Homo sapiens: one gene and its partners. The protein of the gene in region 2 purifies or fractionates together with the protein of the main gene of each other region. This does not show direct contact. Each region holds a gene or a part of one and is shown on either strand. Other genes may lie near its edges.

Region 1 (3,500 bases), on a different chromosome or scaffold from region 2:
CAGAGCAAAAAAGTCCCCCCAAGCTTCCCAATGGATGGTGATTGGAGAGAACACCGCAGTTGGAGTCCCCACACTGCGACTTCACTTAGCTGCAAAATAGCAGCCGCAGAGGGGAGGGGACAGTTCCACTGCGGCTCTGACTCGGAGGGCGGATCGGCCTGGGTCCAAAGCCAGGACAGGGACTCAGCCTGGAGGTGCCAGGTGCACCTGGCGAGGGGTCTGCAGCCAGAGGCTGAGTTCACCCCCTACTGAGGGGAGGCCTGCCCCCTCGCCCCCCACCCTGGACCCGGCCTCCTCTCACGGCTCACCCGGGTGCCCAGCAGGGCCCATGCTGGCGGCCTCTACAACCCCAGGTTCAGACCCTTCAGACCCCGCCCAGGCCTAACCGGTGGCGCCGCCGCAGACCACCTACCTTCCATCGGGGTGTTGGGGTCCGGGCGGTTGGCAAACACCACATCCACGTACTCCAGCTGCAGTCGCTCCAGGGAAGCTTTCAGACCTGGGGGAGGACCAGGTGGGGGGGCGTCACTGCTGTGGCTCCATCTCCACAGGCACCTGGGCCCATCCATGCCCGGCTCAGGGAACAAGAGATGGAGAAGAGGCCTCTGGCATCTGGAAGCTTCCAGAAGCTGATGGAGGTCGTGAAATGCCACGGCAGAGGTGGGGGCACATCCCACAGGGAGTGGGGGGATCTTCCCTTCAGGAGGACATCGGGGGACCACAGGCCACGTGTCCTTGACTAAATGAAGGGGAAGCCCCTCCTCCCTCAGACAATATACCCTCCTCTGAGGCCACTGTGTATTACAACAGGGAGATGACTTTATCTATCACATGTGGAGGGAGGGCTACACCTGCTGCCCGTCCCATCAAAGGCAATAGTGTCTATGGTCGGGCGTGGTGGCCCATGCCTGTAATCCCAGCACTCTGGGGGGCCAAGGCGGGCGCATCACTTGAGGGCCAGGAGTTTGAGACCAGCCTGGCCAACATAGTGAAACCCTGTGTCTACTAAAAATACAAAAAAAATTAACCAGATGTGGTGGTGGGCACCTGTAATCCCAGCTACTCAGGAGGCTGAGGCAGGAGAATTGCTTGAACCCAGGAGGTGGGGGTTGCAGTGAGCCAAGATCGTGCCGCTGCACTCCAGCCTGGGCAACAAGAGCAAAACTCCATCTCAAAAACAAAAACAATGGCAATAGTGTCTAAAACGCCCAAGCCACCCGCTGGTGCTTAGAGCAGCTCAGGACACACAGCCGGCAGAGTGAAACGCTGGGTTGGGGTGGGGAGGATGGGAGTGGGTGGCTTGCCCCGCCAGGTGATTTTCAATGGAATGATCTATTACCTCGAAGAAAATGAACACGGACAGGAAAGGCATGAAGACAATAAAGATACAGCAAGAGCCAGACACCCCGGTGCCTTGCTCCGGTGCCTGCGAGTGCTGAGCCCCGGGCTGTGTGGCACCTTCTCCTGGGCGCTGCAGGCATCCCAGCCACCCTCGCCGGGTGCGCTCTTACTGTCCCTATTGCACAGATACTGTGGCAGAGGCATGGGGCAGGGTGCCCCTGCTGAAGACCCACTCAGCCAGTGTGGGGCCAAACCTGGATTGAAACCCAGGCTGGTCTGTGGTCTGTGCTCAGCCACCGGGCTGCCCTCGTTCTCTGCAGCGTCCCGCTGTGCTACCTGGGTGGAAGGAGAAGGTCAGGCCAGAGCACCGGGTGCCCCGGGATTGGGCCCTCAGTGGGTTAACTGGGGGGGTCGGGCCCTGTGCTGCCATCACTTTGGCCTCCGAGGATGATCCCACAGGTATGGGGGCCCTGAGGTGCCCGAGCGCGTCCTCACCTTCGATTATGTGCTTCCTGGACAGGCCCCGCTCCGTCTCCGCCCTGGAAAACAGGCCGACCGCGTGTGATGTCACCAGCGGTTTTGGCACCCTGGCCCCTCCCAAAAAACGTTTACGATGCAATGTTAGACGCAAAAACAGGGTCAGCAAATGCCGTGTGGAGTCGGATTCCACTTTGGGGGTAGGGACCCGAGGCTACAGGGCTGAACTCCCAGAGGCCCAGGGAGAGGCCTGGTCACAGGGCTCAGAGGGGAGGGGGGCAGCAGCAGGGGGTGGGGGGCTTTGATTTTCAACCTAACCCGTCTGTTTGATTTGGACTTATTATTATTATTATTATTATTATTATTTTTTAAATTAAGAACACATCAGGCTGGGCACAGTGGCTCACGCCTGTAATCCCAGCACTTTGGGAGGCTAAGGCAGGAGGATCACTTGAGCCCAGGAGTTCAAGACCAGCCTGGGCAACATAGTGAGACCCCATATCTTAAAAAAGGACAAATTAATGCCAGGCGTGGTGGCTCACGCCTGCAATCCTAGTGCTTTGGGAAGCTGAGGTGGGCAGATTACTTGAACTCAGGAGTTTGAGACCAGGCTGGACAACATGATGAAACCCCATCTCTACAAAATACAAAAATAAAAATATAAATAAAAATAAAAAAATTAGCTGGGCATGGTGGCATGTGCCTGTAGAACCAGCTACTTGAGGCAGGAAGGTCACTTGAACCCAGGAGGTTGAGGCTGCAGTGAGCTGGGACTACGCCACTGTACTCCAGCCTGGGTGACAAAGTGAGACCCTGTCTCAAAAAAAAAAAAAAAAAGAGAGAGAGAGAAAAAGGACAAATTAGTCAGGCATGGTGGCTCATCCCTGTAGGCTGAGGTGGGAGGCTCGCTCGAGCCCAGGAGTTTGAAGCTACAGTGAGCTGTGATTGTGGCACTGCGCTCCAACCTGGATTACAAAGCGAGACCCTGTCTCAAAAAAATAAAAAATAAAAACAAAATAAAAATAAAAAAAAGAATGAATGAATGAATCGTAGTTATAATTCCTATGAGCCCAAGTGTGTCCAGCCCAGAAACTATGGAGCTAGACACTTGGAGACCTGCAGGGGTGACAGGCGGCCCAGGGAATTTGGAGTGCTTTGGGGGTTTGGGCAGTTCACAAATTTTCTGTTTTCTCTATAATTTTTATGATGTTACCATAGTGACCAGGAAAAAATAATCCATGTGAGTAAAAAGGAAAGTTAAGCGAGGTTTTTGTAAAAGGCAAACTCGGCCACAGCTTCTTTTCTGGATTTGACGTCCCTTAACAGGGACAGGCACCAGGCATAGCTGATGGCTGCAGAAACACCAGCTCTGCCCCTGCTGGGGACAGGAAATGGCACTGGGCCGGGGCCTGTCCAGGACAGACCCCGACCACTCTCCCTTCTCAAGGAGGACTGTCCTCCCGCCACCCCAGGAGCCTTCTAGGTCAGGGGTCTCTGGGGAGCACGGGGCCGTGGCTGCTGGGCCGGGGCTGGAAGCATCGCCAGCTGTTGCACCTACTTTCCGCCCCAGAAGATCTTGGTGGTGATGACGAGGCTGGACCGCCTGTGGAACAGAAGAGAAAGAAGGGGTGTGATAAGCCCGGCCCCTGGGGGGTCCTCCTTCATCCCCGACGTCCTCATCT
Region 2 (3,500 bases):
TCAAAGCTAACAAACATTCTATGACTTAACTGCTTGAAAACTAACTTGTTGCAGAAAGGTGAAATGCTTTATTCTCACAGAAAACTCCACTTCTGGAGTTGCCCCTCAATATGAAGAAACCGGAAGTAAAAGCCTGTCATTCTTAAATAACATTTATTATTGTTGCAAAGAAGTCTTCTCCATGAGAACAGTTCTCACATTTATTTAAAGATATAGAGGTTATGGATATAGATAAGTATGCCCGACTATGATCCTTAATTCAGCAATCTAATATTCACAATGTGTTTGTTGCCATTTAGCTATTTATCCCAACATGCCCTTAAAAAAAACACCAAAAAACCACATGTGCCTAGACAGGGTGGAAAAAGAAACACCAAGGCCTTGCTAAAAAGGAGAAGCCTAAAAAAGATAAAATTCCCACGGCAGTTCTGTTCAACTGTAGCCTGTGAGTGCAGGAATAATGTTCCCGTGGGGAAGCATTATGCCCAGTGGTTTCTTGGTGTCAACGTGGGAAAGCCCTTGAGGTTTTCTGTCGCTGTCAGGAGGAAGCACGAAAACTGTTTATGGAATCCAGTCGACGTTCAGGCACCGCGCGATGAACGCAAACATGTCTGAGACTTCCTCTATCACTTTGGCTGTGGGCTTCCCCGCCCCGTGGCCCGCCTTGGTGTCCACGTGGATAAGCAGGGGGTTGCTTTGCTTCCTGCTGCGGCCCACGATGTACTGAAGGGTGGCAATGAACTTCAGGGAGTGAAGCGGGACCACGCGGTCATCATGGTCAGCAGTGAGGAGCAGCATGGACGGGTACTGGATGTCATCTGCTTCTGGTAACTTCACATTATGCAATGGAGAGTATCTGGAAGGCAAAAACACCTTTGTGAGGCTGGAGAGCAACAGTAGAGTTTTATGGCACAGGGACCTAGGTAGTTAATTAGCAGTGAGGACTGCAGTTAACTAGTACGTGAGTGACCACCATGGACTGTGCCTATGCGTTACCATTTAGGCCATGACTGGCAAGGGCTCCTGGAAACTGGGGAGCTGTGTCATTTATGTGGCTCCAACTTTGAAAGACTGTAGGAAGGAAGCTCACAGGTCTGTTGAAACAACCCAAATCACAGGCATGCTTACTGTCTCTTAAGGTGAGTAGTTTCATATTCTCTAGGCTTTTTTTTTACTGCTACAAAGTGGAGTAATAATTGTCATTATAACCACACTCAGTGGTTCAAAAAAAGTCCAAGCCTTTCTTTTGTTGAGAAACTTGAAATCCACAGTATAAAGGGGCTTGCTGCCCCTTTAATAACATCTATAAAGCCTTTATTCCAGGCTCAGTTTTGCAATCTTAGGAAAAGCACATGTCCTCTCTGGGCCTAGTTTCTTTGTAAACCGAGAAACCTGGATGGGCTGTTGAGCCTCCTGCTGGCTCTCAGTCCGGCAGAAAGCAACAGACTTTGCCAGAGGAGGAGGGCACCTTCCGAAGTACCAGGCAAGTTTCCTGGGTAAGTTAACAAAAAGGGTGTTAAGTATAAAAGTAATGTTGATTTTAACAGTGACTGATAATAGTTGAAATATCTGGATATTTTTTCTTTACATTCTCCTAATAGGGGTGTCATGTTTTTCAATGTATTTAATATTTATTAATGAATAAAATCACCTGTTTTAGTAGAGTTTTATTTTGAAGGGTAGGTAAATAGTGAAAACAGTAAAAATTCTGCTCAGTTAACCAACGTGAGGCCAAAACATTCTTGGGCTCAGTTTCCCACCAGATAAGATGGAGATCTGTTTTCTGATCTCATTTAAGAGTGTCTTTTGACCAGCCCCATTCTTCCAAATATGGGTTAGTTCTAAAAAGAAACAAGTTTGGAAAACCCTGCCTGTTAATAATAACAATCTCCCCCTTGGAGATTCACATGCAATATTTATACATTATCTGTAGGAAAAAATACATTAGGCTTTATTTATCGCCCAGCCATTCAAACTTGGAGCTCTAGCTCTTTTTTTGGGGAAACACCTTTTACTAATTCTGGATGGTGCTCCATGAGGCACAGCCCAGGGGGCGGGGAGGTGTGCTGGGCTTGAGGAGCTCCCTGTAGGACCCTTCCTAGCTAGTGTGGGCTGAGTTCCATGCTCATTTTACCAGCCGCAGGTGAAATGCAGCCCTGTGAGAGCAAGATTTGAAAACTGAAGAAGGAACATCATGGAGAAAAATATTTAGAACTTTCTTTGTTTTTAAATTAAGTTTGAAAGTATTAGGTGTCATCTAATATTCTTTTGCCTTCAATTAACTCAGTATTTTCAAATGAGTTTAAATAGGACTTGTTTCCTTACGTGCAAATTTTCTCTAAGTTAGATATTCCTTCTTCAAATATATAGCTTCTACCAATGTGTGTCAATGAGGCCTGCATGTACTGAAAAGTAATAACTTTCATAGTGAACTTTGTTTCCCCTTAGAGAATAGAGTTTAGTAAAGTATCCAGTTAAAAAAAATTCAGTCATTTTAAGTATATTTCAAACTGGAGAGGCTAGCCATAAAAAGCAAACAAAATGAAAGAGCAAACTTTAGAAACTTGGCCGTGTGCGGTGGTGCGCACCTGTCGTCCCAGCTACTCAGGTGGCTGAAGCATGAGAACTGAGAACTGCTTGTACCCAGGAGGCGATGTTGCAGTGAGCCGAGATGGCGCCATTCCACTCCAGCCTGGGTGACAGAGCAAGACTCTGTCTCAAAAAAACAAAACTTTAGAAACTAAAGTTATTTTCATCAAAATTTGTAGTTTACTAATAGGAGGAACAGGCTTCTTGTGCCAGTCTGAGAGCCAAACACTGGTGATTAAAAATAAAACTCTTACATATGGGGAATGAAGGGCCAAAAAGAAGTTTTAATGTCTGTTTACTCATTGTTATCAGCATAGTGGTTGCAGGATACAATGGAAGTTGTGTAAGATTTCAATAATGCAACTTGCAGTTTCAAACATATGTAGCTATATTGAGCATAAAAGAAGTTTAATTGTATTTGAATATATTCCTTTTTTTTTTTGAGACAGGGTCTTGGAATGCAGTGGTGTGATCTTGGCTCACTGTCCCCCCAGGCTCAAGCCATCCTTCCATTTCAGCCTCGCGAGTAGCTGGGACTACAAGCATGCATCACCATGCCCAGCTAATTATTTGTAGAGACAGTACAGTATTTCACCACATTGCCCATGAAGGACTGGTCTTGAACTCCTAAGCTCAAGTGATCTACCTTGGCCTCCCAAAGTGCTGGGATCACAGGTATGAGCCACCATACTCAACACCCCCTTCCCCTACTCTTGACCTGCCATTTCAGGAGCATATATTCTTTACTTAATTTAGAAAAGGAAATCCCATATATTTGATATAAAGTATAATAATACCTTTTGATTGTTACAGTAACAAATTACCACAAATTTTAGCAGCTTGAAACATCACAGACTTCTTATCTCACAGTTCTGTAAGCCAGCAGTCTGGGTTGGCTCAGCTGGGTTCTC
Region 3 (2,753 bases), on a different chromosome or scaffold from region 2:
AACATTTTTTTTTTTAACTATCATCCTAGAGTTCAAGTAGATAAACGTTTTTATGCAACTTAACCAGAAAGACATTCAGAAATTGGTAATTATGTGTGGAGGGTTGAATTATGTCCCCACAAAAATTCATGCTGAAGCCCTAACCATCTACCTGTACCTCAAAATGTGAGTATATTTGAAGATAGGCCCTGAAGAGGTAACTAAGTTAAAATGGGATTGTTAGGATGGGCCCTAATCCAACCTGAGTGGTATCCTTATTAAAAGAGAAGATTAGGACACAGACACCCAGACAGAGGGACCATACAAGGACACAGTAAGAAGGCAGCCATCTGCAAGCCAAGCAGAGAGGCCTCAGAAGAATCTAAAGCTGTCGACACCTTGTCCTGGACTTTCAGCCTCCAGAACTGCAGGAAAATAAGTTTCTATTGTGTAAGTCACTCAGTTTGTGGTACTTTGTTATGGTATCCTTAGCAAACTAATAAAGGATGAAACCCTGAATTTTTAAAAATTTCAAAATGTGTTTACATAATCTTCTACCCCTTTTGTCCTGATTATTCAATGAGCAGACTAGAAAAGCCTAATACCTTTCTGGGGACAGCTACGTTTTAATAATCCACCTACCTTACTAAGCTGTGTGTGCTGGGAGAAAAGTGAGGGAAGTAGAGTCAGGCTGTCAGTCCACTGTTGCAAGCTGCAACTAATCCCAAAAGCTGAATGCAACAAGTCAACAGCAGTGAGAGAAGCCCCAGAGAAGGTTTGAGTCTGGTCTGTCAAAAGCAGGAGGAGAGGTCATAGTCCTTGCGATGTGCCCTTCCCCAGCTTGGAGCGTTTGGCAAATATTAGAAGTTAGGAATGCAATTAGCCTCTGTATTAGAGACAAAGAGCCTATCAGCAGCTTGATCTTAGATGGTCCCATTAGAGAATAAGCCCTTTTCAGCCAGGTTCCAGGACGTTTTCATAGTTTAGCGCTCCACGGAGGGGGTCCTTAATCTCCAACGGCCCCAACGTCTGAGTCCTGGTCATTGAGCCTGTGCCTGCTTTCAGTTCAGCATAGCTCGTGTTGAGGCTAAAACAGCTCAAGGCAGACAGTAGCAGGTTTCAGCTTAGAGTCAGGGCCAGGCAATTAGGATCTGAGAATTTGAGATTCTCAACAAGCAGCTGCTTTTCTTCAGCAGCAGTGAAGGCATGCTGCATGGCCAGACAGCTGTGGTCCAAGTGACATGCAAGGCTGCCTTTTTATCTTGTTGGTCTTAGAGTCCAATTGACCCACTCAAAAAAAATGCATATTAGACTAGACAATCATCAGCCTCTAAGGGGAGACATTTGATTTTGACAAGGGTTCATTAGCAATTTAACTGTATTTTCATTTTCCAAACAGATTGCTTCTCTTTACATGTTGTCTCCCTCTTTCCCGAGGCTCCAGTAAGCACGAATCACAGCAAAAATAATCAGTTACAGCCTGTTCTGGTTCCAATATCCGAAGAATTTAAATTCCAACCTATCCACTAGTGGCAAAAAACTAGAAAGCTGTATCCCACTAACACCTTTCATATTTTATTTTTGAGTAGCTTTATTTGATTAGGGTGATCCCTCTAGCATTTATGAAATTAACAAGCATAAAACTTTTTTTTTAAGAGATGAGTAGCTGGGACTACAGGCGCACGCCACTGCGTCCAGCTAAGGTATGTTTTTTAAGCAATGAAATCAACCAGTAAAAACAAGTTCAAATATTTTTCATTCACACACTCAAGGCCTGCTGAGCATCCACTGCATGTGTTTTACTTGTTCCATTAGAAAGGTTTATTAAAAAATGGCGGGGCACAGTGGCTCATGACTGTAATCCCAGCACTTAGGGAGGCCAAGATCGCTTGAGCCCAGGAGTTCAAGACTAGTCTGGGCAACATGGTAAAACCCTGTCTCTATTTAAAAAATAAACAAATACAAGCAAGTTTTTTTTTAAAAAATGATATATTAAAGAAAATCCTCCTAATTCTCTTATGTCTTTTCATAGCTGTTTCCATGTTCTCATATTCCCATCCTTGTCAACATGGAATTTTTGTTGTTGTTGTTGTGGTTTTTTTTTTTTTTTTTGAGACGGAGTCTCGCTCTGTCGCCCAGGCTGGAGTGCAGTGGCACAATTACAGCTCACTGCAAGCTCCGCCCCCTGGGTTCGCGCCATTCTCCTGCCTCAGCCTCCCAAGTAGCTGGGAATACAGGCACCCGCCACCATGCCTGGCTAATTTTTTTGTATTTTTAGTAGAGATGGGGTTTCACTGTGTTAGCCAGGATGGTCTTGATCTCCTGACCTCGTGATCTGCCCACCTCGGCCTCCCGAAGTGATGGGATTACAGGCTTGAGCCACTGCGCCTGGCCAAACATGGAATTTGTTTTATACAGTTGCAATTATGGTCCATTAATACAATCTATTTGTATGTTATCAGTAACAGTAATACTAACAGTGAACCCTTATTAAGCATTTACTATGTGCCAGGCACAAGGCTAAGAGTTTTACAGAGATGATCTCATTTACCTTGGGTTACTTACCCAACCAAGGTTTATAGCCAGCAGGTGGCAAAGCTTGAATTCCAACCCAACTCTGCTGACTCCCAACTACACCCACCTGCACACTTGCCTCTTGGGCCTTGTTTGTCTGGCAAGTCCTAAATCCCAGACTCATTTGTTCACTTGCTTGCTTCCTCCCTCCCTCCCTACCAAAACACAGTATGATCTGTCGGTTAAACTCAATAGACTAA

Evidence for each region. Proteins that work in one complex are often made in the same cells at the same time.
Region 1: the proteins of PREP (region 2) and KCNAB2 fractionate together in Homo sapiens (co-fractionation; one large-scale study listed by BioGRID). This does not show direct contact.
Region 3: the proteins of PREP (region 2) and DCTN5 fractionate together in Homo sapiens (co-fractionation; one large-scale study listed by BioGRID). This does not show direct contact.

The regions. Positions count from the first base shown.
Region 1 is NC_000001.11:6,087,388-6,090,887, reverse strand, and holds part of KCNAB2 (voltage-gated potassium channel subunit beta-2), read right to left. Parts: intron 3,422-3,500; coding exon 3,377-3,421; intron 1,881-3,376; coding exon 1,837-1,880; intron 500-1,836; coding exon 413-499; intron 1-412.
Region 2 is NC_000006.12:105,277,583-105,281,082, forward strand, and holds part of PREP (prolyl endopeptidase), read right to left. Parts: exon of another isoform or gene 3,039-3,500; intron 1,497-3,038; exon of another isoform or gene 1,434-1,496; intron 857-1,433; coding exon 562-856; 3' UTR 1-561. UniProt on the Homo sapiens protein: Cleaves peptide bonds on the C-terminal side of prolyl residues within peptides that are up to approximately 30 amino acids long.
Region 3 is NC_000016.10:23,672,466-23,675,218, reverse strand, and holds part of DCTN5 (dynactin subunit 5), read right to left. Parts: 3' UTR 1-2,753. UniProt on the Homo sapiens protein: Part of the dynactin complex that activates the molecular motor dynein for ultra-processive transport along microtubules.